2 linked regions of the Homo sapiens genome follow. The protein of the gene in region 1 interacts with the protein of each later gene in a pairwise test. Each region holds a gene or a part of one and is shown on either strand. Other genes may lie near its edges.

Region 1 (10,754 bases):
GGGATTACAGGCATGAGCCTCTGCGCCCGGACTGTTTTTATTTTTTTGAGATGACGTCTTTCTCTGTCACCCAGGCTGCAGTACGGTGGCGTGATCTCAGCTCACTGCAACCTCTGCCTCCTGGGTTCAAGTGATTCTCCTGCCTCAGCCTCCCGAGTAGCTGGGATTACAGGCGTGCACCACCACACCCAGCTAATTTTTTGTATTTTTAGTAGAGACAGGGTTTCACCATGTTGGCCAGGCTGGTCTCCAACTCCAGGTGATCCGCCCGCCTTGGCCTCCCCAAGTGCTGGGATTACAGGCATGAGCCACTGCGCCCAGACAATATTTAACAACTTTTAACCTAAGAAATGGCAATATAGTGGTTCATCCTAATACTTCCCTTGTACCTTCCCCCATATACAGGGGAAAGTGAAGCAATGAGAGATCAAGCACCTTAATACAAAGCTGGGCGTCTGACTCCTAAGTCCATTCGAGTACCCACAGTGCACTTCAAGGCTAGTCTCAGTGCCCCTGCCCGGCCAAATTTGCCTGGATGACCTCTTGCTCTTCAAGAGAGTGCCTTTTTTTTTTTTTGAGATGGAGTCTTGCTCTGTCGCCCAGGCTGGAGTGCAGTGGCCCATCTCAGCTCACTGCAAGCTCCACCTCCCGGGTTCACGCCATTCTCCTGCCTCAGCCTCCCGGGTAGCTGGGACTAGAGGTGCCCGCCACCAAGCCCGGCTAATTTTTTTTTGTATTTTTAGTAGAGACGGGGTTTCACCATGTTAGCCAGGATGGTCTCGATCTCCTGACCTTGTGATCTACCCACCTCGGCCTCCCAAAGTGCTAGGATTACAGGAGTGAGCCACCGCGCCCGGCCAAGAGTGCCCTTCTTTAAGGTGCCCTGTGCATGCCTGTATCATCATGGCCTTTATCAGACCATCTTGTAACTGCCTGTTTACTTATCTCCATCTTTTATGGGACTTCGAGCTCCTGGAAGGCAAGGACCCAGCTACAGTCAGTCTGTATTTTGCCATTATCTAGAATTGTACCTGACACATTGTATATATTTACTATTGATTTGTTAAATGAATGAATGAGTGAAACAAATGAGTAAAAAAATAACTTGGAGAAAAAAAAGCAAATGGTAGATGGCATTAAGGAGAAGTAAAAAAAAAAAAAAACAGACAAAAAAGTCAAAAAAATGAAAAAAGGTCTGACTGGAGAACCCAGATGTTTATTCTAGGGTAGAAAGGAAAAGGGGCACACTCCTTGGCAGAGGGAGATGTATGAGGGGAAACAATGAAGGAGGGGTCTCACCAGGACAAGAGTCCTGATGGCTCACAGCATGCAGGACCTGGCAGAGTGTGGTGCAGGGAAGGCGAAGTAGCAGCCAGCTGAGTGAATCGAGAGCAATGGTGACAGGAACAGGATCTGTCCTCTTGCACATGGCTCTCAAGGCTCCCAGCGGCCCCCCAGGAAAGGCCTCCTCAGTTTTTGACCAGTTGAGAGGGTCTCTGAAGAAGTCATGGTAAACCAGCCTGCAAAGGGAAAATAAGACACAATATAATATTGCCCCTTCCCCCGAGAGGATCACAAAGTTCATCCTCTGATCTTTATGGCTGTTTTCTCAATTTTTATGAATATCCTAAATATTAGTGAAAGATAATTACTGAGAGAGAGCATACAGTGATTGAGAGCACAGACTTTGGTGTCTGACAGCCTGATCTCCAAGCTTGGCTTTGCTACTTGCCCAAGGTCAGCTAACTGATACATTATTTCTAAGAGTTGCCTCATTGGTGAAATGAGATGCCAACCTCTAAGCATTCAGCACAGTGCTTGACACATAGTATATGCCTGATAAATGTTAGTTATCACCATTATCAAATATTTCCTGTGTGTGGCACCTAAAGATTATCACCCTGGGTGAAAAAAGAGAAAGCAGAGGACGTGAGATTTGGTCCTGCCTGTAGAACAGCTTAAAGAAAGTCAAGAATTAAGTCAAGAAGTAACAACTACAGAAAAAACAGCTCAGGAAAGGGAGACTGGCATAGGTAGCAGAACTTTTTTTCCCAGATATCTCTTTTCTATCTTCTCTTGTGGAGTGCCCGCTTTTTTTTTTTTTTTTGAGACAGAGTTTCGCTCGTTGCCCAGGCTGGAGTGCAATGGCGTGATCTCCGCTCACTGCAACCTCTGCCTCCTGGGTTCAAGCGATTCTCCTGCCTCAGCCTCCTGAGTAGCTGGAATTACAGGCATGTGCCACCATGCCCAGGTAATTTTTTGTATTTTTAGTAGAGATGGGGTTTCTCCATGTTGGTCAGGCTGGTCTCGAACTCCAGACCTCAGGTGATCCACCCGCCTCAGCCTCCCAAAGTGCTGGGATTACAGGCGTGAGCCACCGCGCCCAGCCATGGAATGCCATCTGAACATACACCACCGCCTCTATCACAACAATGGCTGATGCAAAATTGGAGGCTCAACAGATAAGATGTAAACTACTATTATCATCCACTGAGTTGCCGGGACTAGGAAGTAGAAAGCATCCTACTAATGGTTCTTAATGTCTCCTGATCAGGCATGCCGCTGGGTTTAGGAACTTCCTTATCTCAATACTTTCTTCTCCCCCATATTAGTCAATAAATCCTGGAAATTCTACCCACTAAAGTCCTTTACATGTGTTCTAAACTTTCCATCTCTACTGCCACTGCCTTAAACCAGGCCTCTATCACTTCCTACCATTATTCCCTAAAATTCATTAGGTCAGGAACAGGTCTCACTCACTGCCGTCTCCAGTATCTTGCACAGCACCTGGTTGATAGTTGGTGCTCGGTACATATGTACCTTAAAGAGTGAAGCCGGATTAACGGATTACTGCAATACCCTTCCCACATGTTCTCCCTATTTCCAGGCTATTTCTCTCTCGACTTCTATGATCTTTGCTTTGGACTCCCCAAATACTCATCACTCCTCTTATTAATTCTTGCCTCCTGAAAGATCCATATCCAATTCTTCAATGAATATTTAAGGAACTGCTACTACATACCAGGTTCTGCGCTTGTTGTAAAGAAATTTCCTTAGCATTATAGGTCTCAAATTTAATCAAATCTCTTCCAACTGGTACTTACCGATTGTTGATATCAGAGTCAAAACCTTCACGAAACTCTTCCTCGCTCACTTCACAGCCCAGGATATGCACTTGCTCCCCACTAAGGCAGAGATGAGAAGGGATTGTCAAAGAGTGGGCACAGGTGCCCTATCCAGGGTAGGCCGGGGAGACACTGTGGGATACTCACCACAGTGCAGATTTCTTGACAAGCGCCTTCAAGAGACTGCGCCCCTCCCACTCCACGGAATCTGCAGAGCGAGGGACGGATAAAGGGTATGAGAGCGCTGGGATTACCGCCTTCGCGAACCCGTCGCGATTTCCACACCTAGCCTGTGACCCCTGGCCCTTCCTGCCCACTTCCGTCCCCTCAGCCAGGCCCGAACCGCACCCCCCGCCCCGCCACCGTGCCTCTGGCTCTCACCCCGAAGCAGCACCAGGCCGCCCAAGGCCAACAGCGAGTCCAACATCTCCAACTCGCGTCCGGTCCCTGCTCTGGCGCCCTCTGATGGCGTCATGACCCAGTGTCCTTCCTCCTCGGGGTGAAACGGGCCGAGCACTCGGGCGTCCTCCCACCATTAAGACCTAACATAGTCTGGAATGAGAGGTGATTATGTTCAATATTCCCAGGGGGGCGCTCACGCGGAGGGCGCCCCTCCCCGAGCCCTGGCGCACAGTCGTACGGACAACGACCCCGTCTACATTTTCACTGTGACCGGGGCGGGAAGAGCAGTTGGGGCAGTTGTCAGTGGGAGGGGGAGGAGGACCCACAAGCCCCCCGCGAGGGCCCTAAGCGCGGGCCAAGTGACGTCACTCTCCCCGCCCACGCAGTTTGAGGCGGGGCCTGCTTCGCCTCAGGCCCCGCCCCGCGGCCACCTTCTGCGCGTGCGCAATACTGCAGCCTCGCTTGGAGTGCTTTTGGCTTTCCTTATACCTACCCGCCATAGACCGCGCAGGAGGAACTTAGTCCCGGTGAAGCGAATACACGTCACCACCGGAAGTAGTGTCAAAGGGGAAGAGGAGGGGGAAAGACAGGAAGAGGGAGTCCTTTGGACGGTAAAATGGCGCCTGTCAGAGTGGGAAACCCAGCTGCAGAGGCTGCAGCCCCGGTCCCCAGCGGCTAAAGGACCCCCGAGCTCGGGGAGGGGGAGGCCGCTCCGGCCCAGCGCTCTGCGCCCTCCGGCTCCCCCTCCCCCTCCTTCCCTGCTCCTTCGCTCTGCAGGCCCGTTCTCCGCTGCCGCGGCCCTTTGCGCGCCGCTGCCCCCGCCCTCCCCGTTCCTGCGAGCAGCCCCCTAGCGCGCCTGCGCAGCGGGCCACTCTCTGCTTTCCCCCCCTCCCCTTCCCTTTTCCCTTCCTCCCTTTTCCCTAGCCCCCTCCCCCACTGCCCCCTCCCCCAATTATCCTTCCCCTTCCCTCCAGGTCTCGGAGGACCCCATCCTAGCCCTACCTGTCTCGGCCCGCAACCTCCCCGAAGCCGTCGGTGCCACTCCCAGCCCATGTGGGCCCCCGCGGGCTGCCCACGCCTGTCCCCCAGCTCCCCGTTCCGCTGGGCTTTACCCTCGCCAGGGGTGGCTTTCTGAGCCGCCCGCTCCGTGCCCCTCTCTGCAGCCTCTCCTGCCACTCGGGGCCCCCGTTCCCCCTCCCGGCGGCGGGGGGCTGCCCCCGGGGGGCTGGCGGAGCTGGGCCGCGGGGGCCCCGGGGCCGGCGGTGCCGGGGTCATCGGGATGATGCGGACGCAGTGTCTGCTGGGGCTGCGCACGTTCGTGGCCTTCGCCGCCAAGCTCTGGAGCTTCTTCATTTACCTTCTGCGGAGGCAGATCCGCACGGTGAGCCAGGGTGGGCGCTGGCGGTGTTGGGGACGTCTGGCGGTGTTGGGGACATCTGTCCGTGGTGCTCAGGGGTTTTCGGAGTGTCGGGCCTCTGTTTGGGCCTAGGAAGGGAATCCTGGCTGGGGCTTTTCTCGCCAGAGAATTGGGCACCCTAAGCGGGGCGAGGTGGGAGACCCTTGTAATAGAACCTTGCCCTTGGGGGTTTTGATGGGGCTAGATGGGACAGGATTTGGCAACTCTTGGGGGCTAAGGTGGTGGGTGGGGCGCTCTTTAAGAAAGCTGGAGTTGTTGCTAAAGAAACCAAGAGGCGGGGAACACCTGTTTGATGACAGCCGGATCTGTGGATGTGGGCTTGGGAAAGACCCTATTTGGAACCTCGGTGTGTGTTTGGTCCTATAACAAGGAAGAGACAGACTTGTGTGTCAAGGGTGGAGGTGGGTGGGAGGGCATACGTTACAAACAAGGACGGGAACTTGGGAAAGCCCTGGGTGTGAAGGAGAAACGCCTGCGGTTCCCATTAAGAGAATTCCTCCAAAAAGGCTGTGAAAATTTATTTCATAGTGTGAGTGTAGGTATCTGGATTTATTGAAGACTAAAGCAGATGCTTTTACGATGGGCCTCTTTAATTGTGGGAGGGAGTTCAAGGTGGGTGCTGTGCCCACCATTGAAGTTTGGGTGTCCCTGTCAGAGGACAGCGCTGGGCAGTTGTAGGGCTTGAAAATGAGGACGTTTGCTTCTCCAGGAGAGCCTAGCATTCTGAGGGAAACTGTCCGGATGGACCCAAGCATCTCTGGGTCCCCTCTCCCTTAGCTTTTCTCCAAGGTCAGAGGTCCTTCAGCTAACAGCACTTTAAATGAATGTGCTCTTGTGGTCTCACCACCACCAGGGAGAATCCTCGGAAGGAGTCTGGGGAGAATTTAGTAAGCGGAGACACAGGTTCTGGGTCTGTACTGTGGTCTGTACCCCTTAGCATACCTCAATACAATTTGAAAGAATAAACCCAGGTTGGGGTGACCTGGGGTCCAGAGAATTTCCAGAAAGCCCTCAGTGGTAGTGGTGGTTGATTTAACTGATTTGGGAGAATGGGTCTGGCCTTGGGTTCATTCTGTCCTTTACCAGTCTGCTTCCACTTCCTGATTTAGGGCGCGAACAGTACAGGATGGTTGTGGCTGTAGGCAGCAGCGCTATTCCCCCGAGACAAGAGCTAGGAGCCAAGAAAAATTTAGGGTCAGAGATGCTGGGATATGTGTGGGGCTATCTCCTGGGGTTTTCTTTTCTTTTCTGAGACAGTCTCGCTTTGTCGCCCAGGCTGGAGTGCAGTGGTGCCATCTCCGCTCACTGCAACCTCCACTTCCTGGGTTCAAGCGATTCTCCTGCTTCAGCCTCTCGAATAGCTGGGATTACAGGCACCTGCCACCACACCTGGCTAATTTTTGTAATTTTAGTAGAAACGGGTTTTCACCATGTTGGCCAGGATGGTCTCAAACTCCTGACCTCAAGTGATCTGCCCGCCTTGGCCTCACAAAAGTACTGGGATTGAGCCACTGCACCCGGCCTCCAGCGGTTTTCTTTATGGGTTGACTGCCATCTTCTCTGACGTTCTCGCTCCAACACATCAGTTTTCTGGGCATACGGAGTGGTGCTTCAGCTCATCCACAGGTTACTTCCAAAATTGCTCTCCTTTGGGCAGCACTGACCCCATAGCCTTTTGTCCTCCCTTCCCTTCCAATCTGGTTTCTTTCCCCACCCCGCTTCTGGCAGATGCTTGGAGCATTCCCTACATGCCCAGCATATGCAACCCGAGATAGCAAGGCTGGACACTGGAGCTCTTTCGGACCTCATCATGGCCCAGGGAGAAAAGAAGGGCAGATCTTGATTAGGGGGAGAGAGCCCTGTGGGTTTAGAAGGGAGAACCTGGTTCTGGTGTGGCTTGGGGCCTAGGTATGCACTGAAGAGGGTTTGTACCTTTGAAGAAAAGTGTGGAAGAGGGAATTGCCAGGCTTTGTATGGGGAGATGTGCGTATTAGGAAATAGCCCCTAGAGAATGCTTGGAGAAGCAGAGCTGGATGAGGTGGTGACGTCCTTGTCCCTTATTCACCTCTCACTTAACGGCCCTGACTTCACTCTGGCCTCCTCCAGACCCTGCCAGTCAGCCTGGCAGGGGCTTTCCAGTGTTCTTTGCCTCACCCTGGGTACCAGGATAAGGAGACTGTTCAGAGGGCTGAGGTTCTCTGAACTTGTGACTTGGCTAGAAGGGACAGAAGTGGACAGGTGGCTGGTTAAAATAGGCCTGGTGGCTTCTAGCCAGAGGAACTTAGCTGACCTGACAACCTCTGGATTCCCTCATTCTATATTCCCATTAAGGACCCAGGGATCTCCTCCCGACTCCTACTCCATGTGCACTAGGGAATCTGAGGCACTTAGTTCCCAATGATGGTAGTTGCTACAAATAATTCTTGGGGTGAAGGTTGCGTTGTGGGGGTCGTTTCTTTGTTCAGTGTAGCAGGATAATATCACAGTTAAGAGGGCAGCTTCGGCCGGGGGTGGTGGCTCTTGCCTGTAATCCCAGCACTTTGGGAAGCTGAGGCAGGTGGATCATGAGGTCAGGAGCTCAAGACCAGCCTGGCCAATATGGTGAAACCCCGTCTCTACTAAAAATACAAAAATTAGCTGGGCGTGGTTCGCGCGCCTATAGTCCCAGCTGCTTAGGAGGCTGAGGCAGGAGAATTGCTTGAACCTGGGAGGTGGAGGTTGCAGTGAGCTGAGATCGCGCCACTGCACTCCAGCCTGGGCAATGGAGTGAGACTCCCTTCTCAAAAAAAAAAAAAAGAAAAAAAAAGAGGGCACGTTCTTGGGTTGAACTGCATTGGTACAATCCTGGCTCTATCACTTCATTGATTCTACTTTTTTTTTTTTTTTTTTTTTTTTTTTTGCGACGGAGTCTTGCTCTGTCACCAGGCTGGAGTACAGTGGTGCGATCTCGGCTCACTGCAACCTCTGCCTCCTGGGTTCAAGCCACTCTGCTGCCTCAGCCTCCCGAGTAGCTGGGGCTATGGGCACGCACCACCACGCCCAGCTAATTTTTATATTTTTAGTAGAGACGGGGTTTCACCATGTTGGCCAGGATGGTCTCCGTCTCTTGACCTTGTGATCCGCCTGCCTTGGCCTCCCAAAGTGCTGGGATTACAGGCATGAGCCACTGCGCCTGGCTGATTCTACTAATATCAACTGACCACTTTTGCTACTGTGTTCTAGGCACTGGGAATACAGCCATGATCTAGACAAAATCATATTCTCATGGAGTTTTCATTTTAATTAGGGAGAGAAACAACTTAAGATAATTCCTAGCTGTGTGGCCTCAGTTTCTTTAACCTTAAAACAGGTATAACAGTAATATTATGGTTGTTTTGAGGATTAAATGAAAAAGGCCAGCGTAGTGGCTCATTCCTGTAATCCCAGCACTTTGGGAGGCAAAGGCAGGAGGATCACAAGGTCAGGAGTTTGAGACCAGCCAGGCCAATATAGTTAAACCCCGCCTCTACTAGAAATACAAAAATGAGCCGAGCGTGGTGGTGCACGCCTGTAGTCCCAGCTATTAGGGAGGCTGAGGCAGGAGAATTGCTTGAACCTGGGAGGCGGAGGTTGCAGTGAGCCGAGATCATGCCGCTGCACTCCAGCCTGGGCAACAGAGCGAGACTCCATCTCAAAAAAAAAAAAAAAAGAAGAAGAAATAAGCCTAAATTACATACATAGTACCTGTGGTAAATGTTCATTATGTGCTCCCTGTTACTGTTACTGGGGAAGGCTTCCTTATCAAGGGTTTCAATCCTCTTTTGTGCTATTTGTAGGTAATTCAGTACCAAACTGTTCGATATGATATCCTCCCCTTATCTCCTGTGTCCCGGAATCGGCTAGGTAAGTATGTGGTGGGAAGCCTCCTTTAGGGTGAAGTAGGGGCTAGCTCTGGGTCAGAGGTCGGTCAATATTATTCCTCCCCACTCTGGTTCAGCCCAGGTGAAGAGGAAGATCCTGGTGCTGGATCTGGATGAGACACTTATTCACTCCCACCATGATGGGGTCCTGAGGCCCACAGTCCGGCCTGGTACGCCTCCTGACTTCATCCTCAAGGTGTGTGGTGGTGGGGAGTGATGAAATGGTTCCATCTGTTCCTCTGCCCAAACCTGGACTCCCTTTCCCAGTCCCAGAGCATCTGTCTCCATCCGCTGGCACCAGTGTCAGCCTGGAGGAGGGAAGCAGATGGGTGGGGCGTTTTCTAGGCCTGGGTTGTGGTGGTCATGACATCCCCCAGCCCATCTTGTTCCTCTGTAGGTGGTAATAGACAAACATCCTGTCCGGTTTTTTGTACATAAGAGGCCCCATGTGGATTTCTTCCTGGAAGTGGTGAGTTTTGGAGAGCTAAAGGGAGCTCTGTAATGAAGGAATGGTTTTAGGGCTCTGGGAATTGGGAGGATTTGGAGGAAGGGGTGAGGAGAAACGGGTTAGAGCAGTTTTCTAGAGGGGAGGCTGTGTAATGGTAGGGGAGTGGCTTTCAGTACTTGGGGTTCATTTGTTGTGCTGATGTAATTCTTTTCCGCTGGCATCTTTCTCTTTTGTTCTTGCATTTCTGAATCATAAGAGTGTAGGATGCCTAACACTGAGTTTGGAGGTTTGGGCTGGGGGTTCAGAATTTCGTGTCCTCAGAGACATTTGATGTTGATGGAAGGCCTGAAGGACTATGCCATTGCCTTTCTGAAAGATAACTGTATGTCTAAAGGAATCATCACCTTGTATGGCATCGCCCTCTCCCCCAATCTATTTCAGGTGAGCCAGTGGTACGAGCTGGTGGTGTTTACAGCAAGCATGGAGATCTATGGCTCTGCTGTGGCAGATAAACTGGACAATAGCAGAAGCATTCTTAAGAGGAGATATTACAGACAGGTAAGCTAGAATCCCAGTCTAAGAGTGTGGCTTGGGAGGGAGGCCACCAGGGAGGGATCTGGGTTTGAGGAGAGTATCCTGGAGAGAGGCCTGCTACATGATCCCCTGCCTTCCAGCACTGCACTTTGGAGTTGGGCAGCTACATCAAGGACCTCTCTGTGGTCCACAGTGACCTCTCCAGCATTGTGATCCTGGATAACTCCCCAGGGGCTTACAGGAGCCATCCAGGTACGGGGGAAGGTGGTGAGTCTGGCAGGACCAGAACATGGTTCTGAGAAGGTATTTTTGCAGGAGACCTGGGCTTTGGTCCTTGAGAGCTGGGATTCCCTAGATTATCCCTAGTTTGCTGTAAGTCGAAATGCAAGTTATTTTTGTGTTTCAAATGAGATACCATATATGTCCATTTCATAAGTCGGATTTCTTATATCATTTTTTTCATTTTTAAAATTTATTTTTGGCTGGGCACGGTGGATTATGCTTGTAATCCCAGCACTTTGGGAGGCCGAGGCAGGCGGATCACGAGGTCAGAAGTTCGAGACCAGCCTAACAAACATGGTGAAACCCCATCTCTACTAAAAATAGAAAAAACTAGCCAGGCGTGGTGGCGCACGCCTGTAATCCCAGCAACTCGGGAGGCTGAGGCAGGAGAATCGCTTGAACCCGGGAGGCGGAGGTTGCAGTGAGCCGAGATTGCACCATTGCACTCCAGCCTGGGTGACAGAGCGAGACGCCGTCTCAAAAAAAATAAATAATAAATAAATAAAAATAAAATTTATTTTTATTTATTTTTTGAGATAGGGTCTCACTCTGTTCCCAGGCTGGAGTGCAGTGTCATGATCATAGCTCACTGCAGCCTCGATCTCCCAGGCTCAAGTGATCCTTCTGCCTCAGCCTCTCAGTAGTTG
Region 2 (15,502 bases), on another chromosome or scaffold:
CCAAGGCTGGAGTGCAGTGGCACAATCATAGCTCACGGCAACCAAGACCTCCTGGGCACCACTGATCCTCCCACCTCAGCCTCCTGAATAGCTGTGGTTATAAGCACGTGCCACCGTGCCTGGCTAATTTTTGTATTTTTAGTAGAGACAGGGTTTCACCATGTTGGCCAGGCTGGTCTTGAACTCTTGACCTCAAGTGATCCGCCCACCTGGGGCTCCCAAAGTGCTGGGATTACAGGCGTGAGCCACCACGCCCGGCCCTTTGTCCATTTTTAAATTGGGTTACTTATATTTTTGGTTTTTTGTTGTACTTTTTTGTGGGTTTTTTTGTTTGTTTTTTGAGATGGAGTCTCACTTTGTCGCTCAGGCTAGAGGCAGTGGCATAATGTTGGCTCACTGCAACCTCTGCTTCCCAGGTTCAAGCAATTCTCCTGCCTCAGCCTTCTGAGTAGCTGGAACTACAGGCACGCGCCACCACACCCAGCGAATTTTTGTATTTTTAGTAGAGATGGGTGTTCACCATGTTGGCCAGGCTAGTCTCAAATCCCTGACCTCAAGTGATCTGCCCGCCTCAGCCTCCCAAATGCTGGCATTACAGACGTGAGCAACCTGGTTACTTATATTTTTATTGTTGAGATATAAGAGGTTTTTTCTTTCAAAAAATAAATTCTGCCTCCTGTCAGATCAGCAGGGGCATTACATTCTCATAGGAGTGCAAACCCTATTGTGAATTGCGCATGCGAGGGATCTAGGATGCACACTCCTTATGAGAATCTAACTAATGCCTGATGATCTGAGGTGGAACGGTTTCATCCGGAAACCATCCCCCCACCACCTCCCCAGTCCGTGGAAAAATTGTCTTCCATAAAACTGGTCCCAGGCGGTAATGCTGCAATGCTTGCTTGCCTGTTAGTGACCTCCTGCTATGTGGCCCGGTTCCTAACAAGCATTAGACCAGTACAGGTCCTTGGCCTGGGGTTTGGTGGCCCCCTGCTCTAAAAGACTAACATGGTCTCCATCTTGTTACATTTTGTAGACACAGAAAACTTTTTTGGTATGTTTGTTTAATTTTACAAAAAAAATAAAAGGATAAAACTAAAAAATAAATAAATAAATAAATAAATTCTGGATACAAGTCCCTTACCAGATATATGATTTGCAAATATTTCATTAAACTCTGTGTGTTGTCTTTTCACTTTCTCAGTGTTATGCTTTGATGCACAGAAGTTAATGATATATTTTAAAATTAAGATATAATTTACGTGCCATAAAATTAACCATTTTAGAGCTAAGCTATGAGGATGCAAAGGCATAAGAATGACACGATGGACTTCAGGGACTTCAGGGAAAGGGTGGAGCTGGTGAGGGATAAAAGACTACACATTGGGTACAGTGTACACCGCTCAGGTGATGGGTGCACCAAAATCTCAGAAATCACCACTAAAGAACTTATTTGCGTAACCAAACACCACCCGTTCCCCCAAAAACCTATTGAAATATTTTTTTAAGTAAAAATATTAACCCTTTCAAAGTATACAATTCAGGCCAGGCTTGGTGGCTCATACCTGTAATCCCAGAACAGTCGGAGGCCAAGGCGGCTGGATCACCTGAGGCCAGGAGTTTGAGACCAGCCTGGCCAACATGGAGAAACTTTGTCTCTATTAAAAATACAAAAATTAGCTGGATGTGGTGGTGCATGCCTGTAATCCCAGTTACTTGGGAGGCTGAGGCAGGAGAATCACCCGAACCTAGGAGGTGGAGGTTGCAGTGAGCCAAGATCACACCAGTGCGCTCCAGCCTGGGTGACAGAGTGAGATTCCATCTCAAAAAAAAAAAATAAAATAAAAAAATAAAAAAAAAAATATATATATATATATATACATATACACAATTCAGTGTTTTAATTATATTTACAAAGTCATGCAACCATCATCCCCATCTAATTCCACAACATTTTCATCACCCTCATAAAGTATCCTGTATCTATTGTTAGTCACTCCTGATTTTCTTTTTCCCTGGCAACCAGAATTCTACTTTCTGCCTCTATGGATTTACCTACTCTGAATATTTCATATGAATGGAAACATAGGGTTTATTCATTTTGTAACATTTCAGTACTTAATTCTTTTTCATTGTTGCAAAATAGAGTAATAGCCCATTGTGTATTTACCTCACATTTTGTTTATCCATTCATTATTTGATGGACATTTGAATTGTTTCCACTCTTAGGCTATTAGGAATAATGCTGCTATGCACATTCATGCATAAGGTTTTACTTAAATGTATGTTTTCAATTCTCTTGGATATATACCTAAGAGAAGAATTGCTGGTTCATATAGCAACTGTATGTTTATCTGATGTTCACCTTTTTGAGGAACTGCCAAACTATTCTCCAAAGTGGCTGCACCATTTTAAATTCCTACTAGCAATATATGAGTGCATCCTTATGAAATTGTGTGTTTTCTGTCCTTTTTTCTACTGATACGACATATTATATGAACGCATTTTCTGATGCTAAACTAACTTTGCATTCCTGGGATAAATCACATTTCATCGTGGTGTATAATACTTTTGATATGTTGCTGAATTTGATTTGCTAATTTTTTTGAGAATTTTTTGTCTATGTTCATAAGAGATACTCATTTTTTTTTCTTTTCTTTTTTGAGACAGGGTCTCACACTGTCACCCAGGCTGGAGTGCAGTGGTGCAATCTCGGCTCACTGCAACCTCCTCCTCCTGGGTTCAAGTGATTCTTGTGTGTCAGCCTCCCGAGTAGCTGGGACTACAGGCACACCCCACCACACCTGGCTAACTTTTATATTTTTTGGTAGAGACAGGATTTTGCCATTTTGGCCAGGCTGGTCTCAAACTCCTGACTCCAAGTGATCTGCCCACCTTGGCCTCTCAAACTGCAGGGATTACAGGTGTGAGCCACCATGCCCAGCTGAGATATTCATATATTTTTTAAAGGATGGTGGTGAATATCAACCTGCCATGGTATTTCTATTCCATTGAATACATTTAAAAGAATGATGCAATGGGCCAGGTGCAGTGGCTCACGCCTGTAATCCCAGCACTTTGGGAGGCCAAGGTGGGCAGATCACCTGAGTTCAGAAGTTGGAGACCAGACTGGCCAACATGGCAAAACCCCATCTCTAGTAAAAATGGAAAAATTAGCCGGGCATGGTGGCATGTGCCTGTAGTCCCACTACTCAGGGAGGCCGAGGCAGGAGAATCGCTTGAACCGGGGAGGGAGAGGTTGTAGTGAGCCGAGGTCATGCCACTGCACTCCAGCCTGGGTGACAAAGTGAGACTCCATCTCAAAAAAAAAAAGAATGACGAAATAGCTTTCTTTCCAAATGTCAATACCTACAACTTACCAGAAATTACATCTTTTACAAGTATTTAAACCCATGATGAAAATTTGTGATATCATTTTACAAACATGTGACATGGCATATAATCTTGTCAAAATTATTTTACAAGGTACAGCAAGAGAAACTGTATGAAGATCACTGTCACTGTTATAATCATTTTAGGGAGCCACCAGAGGGTTCTGAGCAGGAGAGCCATGCTATCTTTTAGTGTTTTACAAAGCACTGTTGGAGACGGAGTAGAAGCTGGAAGCCAGTTAGAGGCCACTGCAGTAATCAAGCCCAAATGGTGCTGTGGACCAGGTAGTAGTGAAGGTGGTGGGAAGTGATTCTTTGGTGTTGTTTTTGTTGTTTTTCAGACAAGGTCTTGCTGTCACCCAGGCTAGAGTGCAATGGTGTGATCATAGCTTACTGCAACTTCAACCTCCCAGGCTCAAGTAAGCCTCCTACCTCAGCCTTCCCAGTAGCTGGGACCACGTCCAAATATTATTTTTTTCAGAGACAGAGTCTCACTGTGTTGTCCAAACTGAAATATTTAATATATGTTGAGGGTAGAGCTAATAGGGTTTGCTATCTGATCTGATGTACCACGTGGAAAGAGAGAACGAGAGAGAAGGAATATATCTCCAGCTACAGGGTTCAGGGTTGATCAACTCATCTACTCATCTATAAACTCATCTCTGAAATGAATTTGATAGCACCCCTTGGCTCATAGAGCTGTTGTTGTGACGTTTAAAGAAGATTCAATGCTCCTGAACTAATAAAAGGCAGAGTGGCAACCCCCTAGTAAAAGATAACCAACTTTAACTATTTTATAGGTGATCTCTCTTAGCAGCTGATCTTCATCTTATCATTGCTGTTTTAAGGGTCATTAGTGTTTTGTCTTCTTTTGTTTTTACACTAAACTCTACCTTCATAGACAGTAGGAGTGAGTCTTACAGATCTTTGCATCTTCAGCTCATACTCTAGTGCCTGGAACACGTCTTCCTTAAATATGTGTTACTATCTCCTCCTTGCCAAGTCCCATGGATATGAAGTTCCGAAATCTGTTCCTTTTCATCTCCCCAACTACCTCATGGTCCAAATTCCTTAACCTGACTATGAGACCCTATTTTCCTGTCTCCCTCCCCTATGTCCCCCAATCCCTCTATCCATAAATGTAGACACCAATGACAGGCAAATAACATGCACCCTTTCAAAAGCATGTTCAATATTTATTTTAACACAGTTGAGAGTGAAGGATAGCGAGGCAACACCCCAGGAGGTAGCCCTTACTGTTCCCTCTGTTGTCCCAAGCTCTTGCTAGAAACTTGCACACCCCCCTCAGGCAAACAAAAGCCCTGCAGTTAACAGAACTGTCCCTTTTGAAGGCAAGTCAGCAAAGCCTCCACTCACCACAATGCTTTGCAATGCCCTATTCATCAGTCTGTCTTCACTCCTCACCTCCCCAGGATCTAGCCCAGGAGAGCCTGTCATATAACAGATGTTCAATAGCCATTCTCTAAGCACTGCTGTGTGCCGAAGGGAAATGTGATGAATTAGACTTGGAGATGGAGAAATGGAACATTGAGCAAGAAGTCAAAATGGGTAGTTTGACTTAGGGCTTAAAATCAGGCTATGACAATAATTGTGAGATCCGGGCAAACTGATTTTTACTTTCTCTGTTGTGAAATGGGCCGTGATGACTTTCGAACTTTCAAACTTTTTTTTAAAGTGGAACTCTCGGGTATATGCTTTGTACTGTGATGAGAACACGGTGAGCATGCACACACATCCACACACAACGGAAACAATAGGCCATGAAACCCCACATCCTTACTTCCAATTAGGTTTCTTTTTAGTTTTTTTTTTTTTTTTTTTTTTTTTTTTAGACAGGGTCTCACTCTGTCACCCAAGCTGAAGTGCAGTGGTGTGATCTCGGCTCATTGCAACCTCTGCCTCCTGGACTCAAATGATTCACCCAGCACAGCCTCCCAAATAGCTGGGACCATAGGCACACACCACCATGCCCAGCTAATTTTTTGTATATTTTGTAGAGAGAGGGTCTCACCGTGTTGCCCAGGCTGGTCTCAAACTCCTGACCTGAAGCAATCCATCCGTCCCAGCCTCCCAAAATGTTGGGATCACAGGCGTGAGCCACAGTGCCTGGCCTTAATTCATTAAAAAAAAAATAGTCATCATGTGCCCCATAAATATATACAGCTACCATGAACCCACAAAAAAATTAAAAATAATAATAATAGTCATGAATCAGTACATAGATTTTACAAACCTCTCTAGATTTTGACCCACGGTTTAAAAAATATCACCTGAAAGGGTTAAGGGTGATAACACATGGAAAGGGTTTGGTCCCAAGGAAGGCTCCCTAAGTGGAAAACTGAAAAGTGCTATAGTAGAGGAACCTTCAAAATGAAGTGGTGGGTGGGGGTGTCAATTAATTCTGCTGACAAATGGGAAGGAGGAAGGTTGAGGATGAATTAAATACACAAAATACCAATAGGGGAAAAACTGCAGTGCTGCTTAGAACCTTCTTAGCCCTCATCTTTGCATGGCTGGATTCTTCTCATCCATCTTTTCATTCTCAGCTCAAATGCCTGTGCCTCATGAAGCCCTCCCAAAGCATGAGATCCTGCTAACCTTCCTTTTTCTCACTGTATCCTATTACTGTTACTCCCTCCATAGAACTGTCAACTAAAGGATCATGAGGTTCATAAATCTGGGGAGGAGAGCTTTATTTCTGCTTGTTTGTTTGTTTGTTTGTTTGTTTGTTTGTTGAGACAGGGTCTTGCTCTGTTGCCCCAGCTGGAGTGCAGTGGTGCAATCATAACTCACTGCAGCGCCGAACTCCTGGGTTCAAGCAATCTTCCTGCCTCAGCCTCCTGAGTATCTGGGACCACAGCCACATGCCACCATGCCCAGCTAATTTTTAAATGTTTTTTGTTTGTTTGTTTGTTTTTTGTAGAGACAGAATCTCACTATGTTGCCCAGGTTGGTCTGGAACTCCTGGACTCAAGTGATCCTCCCACTTCAGCCTCCCAAAGTGTTGGAATTACAGGCATCAGCCACTGTGCCTGGCCTAAAGAGGTTTATTTCTGAAGGGTTGGAGCCTGCAGGCTGGCCATCCTTATAGGCTGGGAAGTATGGTCTCTGGCAGAGACCAAAAGCAGGCACTTTGAAGGAGGAAGGGTGAAGCAGGAATTTATGCCAAATGGGTTGGCCAAGTATACATATTTAACAGGTTATAGGAGAAGCTATTCAGGAAAGAGGGGTGCACACATGCATAATAAACAATCATGCATGTTACATGGGTCACATGTTCACTTTGGGGTAGAGACTTAACATTTAAATGCATTACAGTTAGACCCTTTACGTCAAAAGGCGAAGCAGAGAACATAAAGGCACTCATTGTGCAGCCTCTGTAGACTGGCTAGGGCCAATCTATGGTGGGTGGTCTCTTATCAGGAGAAAGTTACTGAAATCAGTCTCTTGTCTAATGAAAGCAGGAGTTATGGCTTGTGGAACAAAGGGATCAGTTAGTCAGTGACTGGTACTTGGTAAGCTGCAATTGTTTTAATATTGCTTGTTTAGCTGCTAGAGGAAAAAAACGAACATTGTGGCAGTTAGAACATCGTTTATTCTTTAAGTGTCTGGGTCTTGAGTGATTTAACCCTTGCCTGGCAGGGCCTTAGGTCTTGTTTATAAGTTGGTATGTTACTGCCACAAAAAAATCTAGCCCATCAGTCTTAGATTCTTTTTTTTTTCTTTTTCTTTTTTGACAGTCTCACGCTGTCACCCAGGCTGGAGTGCAGTGGCTCACTGCAACCTCCGTCTCCTGGGTTCAAGTGACTCTCGTGCCTCAGCCTCCCAAAGAGCTGGGATTACAGGCATGCACCACCACGTCTGGATAATTTTTTTGTATTTTCAGTAGAAACAGGGTTTTGTCATGTTGCCCAGGCTGGTCTCAACTCCTGACCTCAAGTGATCCACGCGCCTCAGCCTCCCAGAGTGTTGGGATTAACAGGCGTGAGCCACCGCGCCCGGCCAGGATCTCTATTTTAACACAACTATTCTTATTTGAAATCAATTACTTATTTGCATGTTTGTTGCCTGCTGTAGCCCTTCCTCTTTGCGGGCAGGAATCCTGTCTACCTGGCTCACACGCGTATCAATACAGTGTCTAGCATGTTAGGCAATAAAATGATTTTGAATGAAAGAATGCCACCAATAAATGAACAAGAAGGCCTTGTGATCAAATACAAATGTAGTCAATCCCTTACAGATCTCTTCTTAAGTTATAGGTATTTGGGCTTACACTTTGCCTCATTTAGGAATTATGAAAGCTGGGTGATGTGAGAGGAAAGTAACCAAGAGAGAAGTGTTTACTTAAGGGGTTGGTTATCTAGGATACCATAATTAAGGAAACTGGTTATTTAGGGTTCTAGTTAGTTCTGTACAGATTTCATTACTCCTTGAGATCCTTGAGGACAGAACCAGCTCTTTGATTTCTGTATCCCTCGCTAGCGACCAGAATAATGCCTGGAAGGTAGTGGGCGCTCAATCAACATTTGACGAATGAAAGAACCAAGCGGGGAACGGGGGATAAATGAATGAACGAACTGGCTCCGGAGGGCTGCAGTTCCTCCCCGGGGCAGCAGGCGACGCCAGCGTTACGCCCGCCTGGCCGCCGGCAGTTCTTGGTCCCTCCGGCTGACCGTCCAACGCTAGGCGCCGAGGCCGGTGCAAGAGACAGCCAATAGAAAGCTGTCTTAGTTGGAGGTCTAGTAGAGGAATCCAATGAGCGTAGCGGGTCTAGGCAAGGGGCGGTGCGACGGGGAGGGGCAGCGGGGAGCGGTTAGAGGTGGGAGTTGGCGCTGCGGGCCGGGCGGGGGCCGCGGAAGCTGCGATGCGGACAGGGCAGCGGCGGTGACCCGAGCTGCCGCCCGACATGAACTCGCTGGAGCAGGCGGAAGGTAGGGTGGGCCGCCCGGGCCCGTCCCCCGTCTCCCCTCGGAAGCTGGCGGTGCTCCGGAGGAGCCGGCGTCGTGAAGACCCCCGCCCCGGGAGGAGGCCGCAGAGGATGGAGCTAGGGGCCCGGAGCTTGGGGGCGCGTAGGCGGCCGTACCTGGCCAGACGCGGGGGGCGGTGCCTCAGCTCCCTGAGTCCCCACAAACCTAGAGGGTCGACCTCCTCGCCAGCTTCTATTTTTATTTTCTTTTCACTGGCAGACACTTGCACTTCGTGCATTGCAGCCTGCTAATTCATTTCATTTCATTCTCACAGCCCCGCGAGTTGTATCCCTGATTCCTGCGGTGGTTTCCGGTAACTGCCAAGGTTAGGAAGTGCTGCTCGGTGTTTTAAAGTTTAAAGCACACCACTGCGGAAAGGATACCCCACCACTCACTCGGAGCAGCTTAGACGCCCCTGTCTTCTAGAACTAGGCGCTGCCTGGGTGCCACGAAGATCACCTGTACCCCTTCGGAGGGGGCAAGGGGAATGTCTTTCCACACCCACTCGCTATCAGTGTCAAGAAGTCTAGTAAGGCCAGACGGCGTAGCCATTAATTAAATATAAGAGCTGGAAACCGGAGGCGGGTAATTGCAGTCAGGTAGACCTCGAAGACTTTGATGTTAGGCACTACGTGGTTCTAATAGGAAGTTCTTGGTTCCCAGAGAGCTAAAACTCGACCTGATTTTAATTTTATTTGCAACCCTGAAAATGTTCGCTTTTGGCGCTGGCCGAGGCTGCTGCTTATTTCTCCCAATACCATTTATGAAGCTTCTAAAAGTAAATCAGCAAGTTTTCTTATATGAGAAATTGGAATTAAAGAGCCCTAATTTTTTGTCAAGTGCTTAAAAAGCTGTCATAGTAAATGAAATAAACAGTGCAGTGATACATGGAAGTTAGTGTGTAAGACCTGAAGCAGTTAAGAGTATCTCACATGTCGTCTTAATGTTAGGTAAATACTCTGACATTTCGTCAGACGAGTAAGAGTGGCTAATTAGAAAATTGACATCTTTATACCTAGATCTCAAGGCTTTTGAGAGGAGACTTACTGAATATATTCATTGTTTGCAACCTGCTACTGGACGCTGGAGAAGTAAGTTCCTGAATGTTATTTTAAGGGAAAACTAACAATTGATACTTTTATCCTAATATAGGAATGATTTGCTTTTATGTAAAATGTTTGTTTAAATTTATTTAACATTGTAGACAATGCCTTATGAAGAAATTTTTAAGAAAAGGAAATTATAACTGGCCTTCTCAAAAGAACAGTCTATTTCGTGTGGTTGTTTTTGTTTTTCCATTAAAAAACATATTTTTTGGCCAGGCGCCGTAGCTCACGCCTGTAATCCCAGCACTTTAGGAAGCCCAGGCAGGCGGATCACCTAAGGTCAGAAGTTCAAGACTAGCGTGGCCAACACGGTGAAACGCCGTCTCTACTAAAAATACGAAATTAGCCGGTCGTGGTGACGCTGCCTGTGATCCCAGCTACTCAGGAGGCTGAGGTGGGAGAATCGCTTGAACCCGGGAGGCGGGGATTGCAGTGAGCCGAGATTGCGCCATTGCACTCCAGCCTGGGCGACAAGAGTAAAACCCGGTCTCAATAAATAAATAATAAAAATATTTAAATTTTTGAATTATTACAGTTTTGATAAAGACATACCTAATAAAAATTTCAGTAGCCCGTTTAGCAGTTTTATAATTTGCCTACAAACTATTGGAATAAAATTTTAGTAAGAAGAGTCATATTAATAGGGCTCAGTGAGTCACGCATATAATCCCAGCACTTTGGGAGGCCGAGGCTGGAGTATTGCTTGAGCATGGGAGTTTGAGACCAGCCTGGGTAACATGGAGAGACCCCATCGCGGTGGCTCACGTCTGTAATCCCAACACTTTGGTAGGCCGAGGCGGACGGATCACGAGGTCAGGAGAGCGAGACCATCCTGGCTAATACGGTGAAACCCCGTCTCTACTAAAAATAAAAAAATTAGCCGGGCGTGGTGGCGGGCGCCTGTAGTCCCAGCTACTCTGGAGGCTGAGGCAGGAGAATGGAGTGAACCCAGGAGGCAGAGCTTGCAGTGAGCCGAGATTGCACCACTGCACTCCAACCTGGGCGACAGAGCGAGACTCTGTCTCAAAAAAAAAAAAAAAAAAATTTAGCCAGGCATGGTGGCACACCCCGAGGTCCCAGCAACTTGGGAGGATCACTTGAGCCCAGGAGGTCGAGGCTGTAGTGAGCTATGTAGTGAGCTAAGTGAGCTATGTTCACTGCACTCCAGCTTAGGGAACAGAGGGAGACCCTGTGTTTAAAAAAAAAAAAAAGTAAAGTCATGTTATTTAATGTATACTTGGAAAAGTTACAAAATTACCCTTAGTTGATTTTTAACAAAGCATAATTGTGCTGCTTTGAAGTCTGACCTAGAAAATTCACATTATTACTATCTATTCATAAGTATCATGAGTGCTACAAAATATAATTTGAACAGTGCTTACTTGCCCATGGAAATACATAGGAAATGTGGACAAATATATGAGCCATGAGATCATCAAACAAAATGCTTTGTTAATATGTGTTTGGAATAGTTTTTATTTGTTTTTGTTTTGGAAATGGAGTCTAGCTCTGTTGCCCAGGCTGGAGTGCAGTGGCGCCATCTTCGCTCACTGCAACCTCTGCCTCCCGGGTTCAAGTGATTCTCCTGCCTCATCCTCCCTAGTAGCTGAGATTACAGGTGCCCGCCACCACGGCAGCTAATTTTTTTGTGTATTTTTAGTAGAGATAGGGTTTCTGCATTTTGGCCAGGCTGGTGTCAAACTCCTCACCTCAGGTGATCCTCCCATCCTGGCTTCCCAAAGTGCTAGGATTACAGGTGTGAGCCACCACGCTGGGCCAAATAGTTTTAATTTCCTAGATGGTCATTATTTAGATTTAATTCCTATCAAGAAGGAAGTGTAGTAGCACACATTGAGGATTTACTTTATTTCAAAGTGTAAATCAGTTTGCTGGACCAAAAAAGCACTATTGAAGCTAAGGATCTAAGGATCTGGCAAGATTTTTTTGTATAATTTTTATTAAATCTATTTGCAAAGTTTTATTAGTATGCTGTGAGAATTCTGGTTGGTCAGAATTTACAGGTAATGATTTTCCTAGGTTCTCTGGTTTACCTAGGAATTATCCCCAAAACCTATGTTTCACTGTTACTTGAAAATCTTTTAAAATGTATATGATACTGCCCTATCTTATAAAATGTGATATAAATATACTTTACTTTTTCTCTGACTCATGGTCTTAGCACTTACTTGGTTAATGAACCAGTCAAATAAAGCATGTGTATGAGGTCCTTTCTAGTGTATTGATTTTGCTTTTTCTTATTTTTTTAAAACATACATGTGTAATATAGTGCATTTCTGGAAATACAGAATTGTAAGAAATTGAGTTCAGTCTGTTCTGAGTTCAGAACATAGTTTTGATATTTTGATCCTATTTAATACCTAAAACAAGATTTTTTTTCTTTAGTTTACGTCTTCTAAAAGTACATCAAGGAATTCTAGATAATTAAGGTTTTACTATATTTGTATATTTGCTATATTTCTGTTGTTCTTGGAAACTGAATTTCCACATTTGAAAAATGTATGCATCCTAGCTGAAAGACAGGCAACGGTCATCATCTCCAGAATATTAACTGGGTCTTGATGCCCCTTTATTATTTTTTACTAATACCATTCTTAAGTTTTACTTATGATTTATTTAGAATTTCTAAAATCATTCTAGCTTAGTGGAGAGAAAGACCTTTTCTAAGTTTTACTGGCAGTAATTTCTACCCTACCTTTCTTTAAGTCTCTTAAAGAAAATCCGATACTAACTGGTGTGCTCCATACTTCCTGCACTGACTTTAATGTAACCATGGCAGTCATCTGCAAAGCAAAATCCTTTAGTCAGTCTTCTCAGTACATTCAAAAAGGAGTCTTTGATGGTTTGTTTACAGTAGAAAATGAGTTTGTTTTTTTAATTTGAGTTTACAAGATCTGCAAAATCTTCACTAAGCACAGTGAACGTTACATAGCGTAGACTCTTCTACTGAAGTGTCACCATCGAATTGCTTTTTATTTCATTGATCATCATAAGTTCTGACCAAATCATAAGAGAAACAGTATCCTTAATTACTAAGGTTCACAATGTTTAAGAGAATTCCTCGAAGCCAGATGGCAAGCCTTCTAATTCCTGAGTCTAGTTAGTGCATTTTCCATTTAATAAAGTGCTATATTCTTTGGTTGTCATTTAGTAGGAACTGGTGGTGATAGTATCACATATTAAGTATGTATTTGCTTACTAATTTCGTGTTTATCTTTCATCAGTGCTTCTTATAGTGGTATCTGTCTGTACAGCTACTGGTGCCTGGAACTGGTTAATAGACCCTGAGACACAAAAGGTAGAAGTTTTGTTTTAAAATCATTAGCATAATTAAATGAGATAATGGATATTGTAGTGCTTTGTTAATGATAAAGTATTCAAACACTACCTATTAACTACTACTAGTGATATTGTCATATTAAAAATATGCCTTTTATTAATTTGCTCAAGGAAGATTTTGGCTGGCTATTGTGAATTAAGTATGTCTACAGGGAAAAGGTCTAAGAGATGCTATTATTTCTTAGACATTTATTTGTTATTTGTCATTCACTTCTGAATTTATCATTTTTACATTTTTTTTATATCTCTCATTTTTACTTCAGTGTGAGTATTATCTTCATTCTGCTTTGTTCATTGAGTGTCATCAGTGCCAGCTTTTAAAAGTTCTAAAATAGGCCAGGCATGGTGGCTCATACCTGGAATCCCAACACTTTGGGAGGCCAAGGGAGGAGTTCAAGACCAGCCTGGGCAATGTCATATAGCAAGACCCCATCTCTACAAAAAATTTAAAAATCAGCCAAGTGTAGCATGCTGTACCCAGCTACTTGGGAGGCTGAGGTGGGAGGATCACTTGAGCTCAGGAGATCGAGGCTGCAGTGAGCTATGATTGTGCCACTACACTCCAGCCTGTGTGACAGAGCTAGACCCTGTCTCAGAAAAAAAGAGGGAGAGAAAAAAATTGTAAAATAACATTTTCTTCTATGAGTTATCTCTGTTAATACCTTTCTTCATCCCATAAAACACTGGAGATGACTTTACAGGAAACACACATGATAAAATAGCAAAATACACATATAATAAAAAGTCAGGACTAGATAAAAACAAGTTGGACCATGAGGTCAAAACCAGAAAGGAAACCAGCTCACTGATGTATAGGCCATGTTTCCCAACACACTTGCCAGAATTGGATTATAAATTAGTCTCTGAGTTACCTAATCAGTGAAGTCACAGTTAATTCTGTGATTTTCATTGCCTGTAAGATAACACATATATCAATTCCTTGGGCTAGCAAAGCTTTTCTTTCCCAACATTTATCTCTGAAAAAAAATTTCTTGCCTGAAGTTTAATACAGGAAACACTGAGGGATCTCCCACTGGGCACTGTGCAAGAATATCCCTATACCAAATGCAATAACTGATTTCATAATGTTATTCCTTGAAGCATCCTTTGATGAAAGCTGATAGCATGTTTCTCAAATTTCCACCTCTTTCTACTAATTTGTGCTTTAATTTCAAACTCAGGGCTTTTTTTTATTAGAGAAGTAGTTAGTCTCCAATTTTTTAGTGAAGTTTCTTTCCCCCAGTGCAGTTTTATTTAGGGAGTAATGATGTAATTTTCACAAATCTTAAAAATCCCCTCCCCGCTTTAAGCTGCAATTAAGTAGACTACTTTCAGTAGCTCTATTTGTACCTTTTAGGTTTTACAGAAGAAAAGCCTAAGAGAAGGCTTTTGTCATCAGTCTCCATGGCAATTCAGACAGCCAGAGAAGTTTATTTCGCATATAGTCTCCCTAACTTTATCTGCTGAGGTGGAGATATTTAAAAGGATAGGAAGCAAGGGGAGATTGGTGATGGAATTTTATGTTAATAGAGGATTTTTATGGCAGACAGGAAACTCTCTTGTGTGTTCATTTATAAAAATCTGATCTTAAGGCTGCACTTGGTAGTCATCTTTAGGGGAAGAGTGGAAAGAGGCTGGCAAGAAGATTGAAAAAGATCCATCTTGGGAAATGAGTCTGACTTCTAATTGGGAAAAATATAAGCTGATCTCAGCTAGTTGAGATCTTAATAAAACACAGAATTAAATGTAATTTGAAATAGGCCCAAAACTATGTAGTTAATATAATTTTCTAAATTAGGTGAGAATATAACTATTCGCCTAAGGGTTGGCTCTTTATATTTCAGTATTTAATAACCCCAAACCTGACAGGAGTTTTAACCAGCAATTGTATCTGTAGCAAGAGTTGCAAACTCAGGAGCAGTGGCTAGGTAGAAGAACCTAGGGAGAGAAAGAATATGGCAGACAGGAAGTACCTGACTGCCTGGCCTGGAGAGAACTGCTGTTTCAATGCATTGGAGTGTTGCCATGGAGGGAGGAAGGCTGAAACTGATGGCCTAATTAAAATGAAGACATAAAGCACTGTATATGCTAACCTGGTGCAGGCCACACACAACAGAGCTGGCTTATGAGAAACTCCTCGGAGGTTTGAAGAAGACGTTCTTCTGGAATATTAACTTTTCCTTGGGTCATCATCTTTCTGGGAGCTTCTTTCCTGGTATTTTCAGCCTCTCATTTCTTCATCTGACAAACTTCTGTAACCAGTACCATGCTGAGCCATCTACCTGGTGCTTCTGTCTTGAAACACGTGCCTGCGCGTCTCCTGCTGTGAGAGTGGAGTGGGGATGTGCTTAACTTGATTCTCTTGCTCCCATCTAGTTACTAATCCACTTGATTTCTTTCTACACAGGCTCTAAATGCTTGTCTTCTCTGTGTCTCCAGTCAACGTTTCCATTTCGGTGCCTATTCTTATTCCAGTCATGGATCCTGGACCCTTGTCCCTCTACATATTCTTAGACTTGTGGATTGTCCTGTTTTCTGCTATCATTTGATATGTCCAGATCTGAAATCAGCCCTTTCTTTCTCCTTCGTTCTAGTTCTTTATGGATAGCTACTAATCGTTTTTCCCTACTTGAATGTCCTGTGGTCATTTAGATCTCAG

The links.
Region 2: the proteins of CTDNEP1 (region 1) and CNEP1R1 interact in binary tests that used the Homo sapiens proteins (3 or more experiments, as listed by UniProt).

Annotation. Positions count from the first base shown.
Region 1 is NC_000017.11:7,245,349-7,256,102, reverse strand, and holds the start of CTDNEP1 (CTD nuclear envelope phosphatase 1), read left to right. Parts: upstream 1-4,368; 5' UTR 4,369-4,806; coding exon 4,807-4,908; intron 4,909-8,759; coding exon 8,760-8,826; intron 8,827-8,920; coding exon 8,921-9,039; intron 9,040-9,240; coding exon 9,241-9,312; intron 9,313-9,732; coding exon 9,733-9,849; intron 9,850-9,965; coding exon 9,966-10,077; intron 10,078-10,754. Other genes in the region: ELP5 (elongator complex protein 5), read right to left, coding at 1,300-1,520, 3,105-3,185, 3,273-3,333, 3,507-3,600. UniProt on the Homo sapiens protein: Serine/threonine protein phosphatase forming with CNEP1R1 an active phosphatase complex that dephosphorylates and may activate LPIN1 and LPIN2.
Region 2 is NC_000016.10:50,016,997-50,032,498, forward strand, and holds the start of CNEP1R1 (nuclear envelope phosphatase-regulatory subunit 1), read left to right. Parts: upstream 1-8,228; 5' UTR 8,229-8,319; coding exon 8,320-8,344; intron 8,345-8,654; coding exon of another isoform or gene 8,655-8,705; intron 8,706-9,399; coding exon 9,400-9,471; intron 9,472-12,728; coding exon 12,729-12,802; intron 12,803-15,502. UniProt on the Homo sapiens protein: Forms with the serine/threonine protein phosphatase CTDNEP1 an active complex which dephosphorylates and may activate LPIN1 and LPIN2.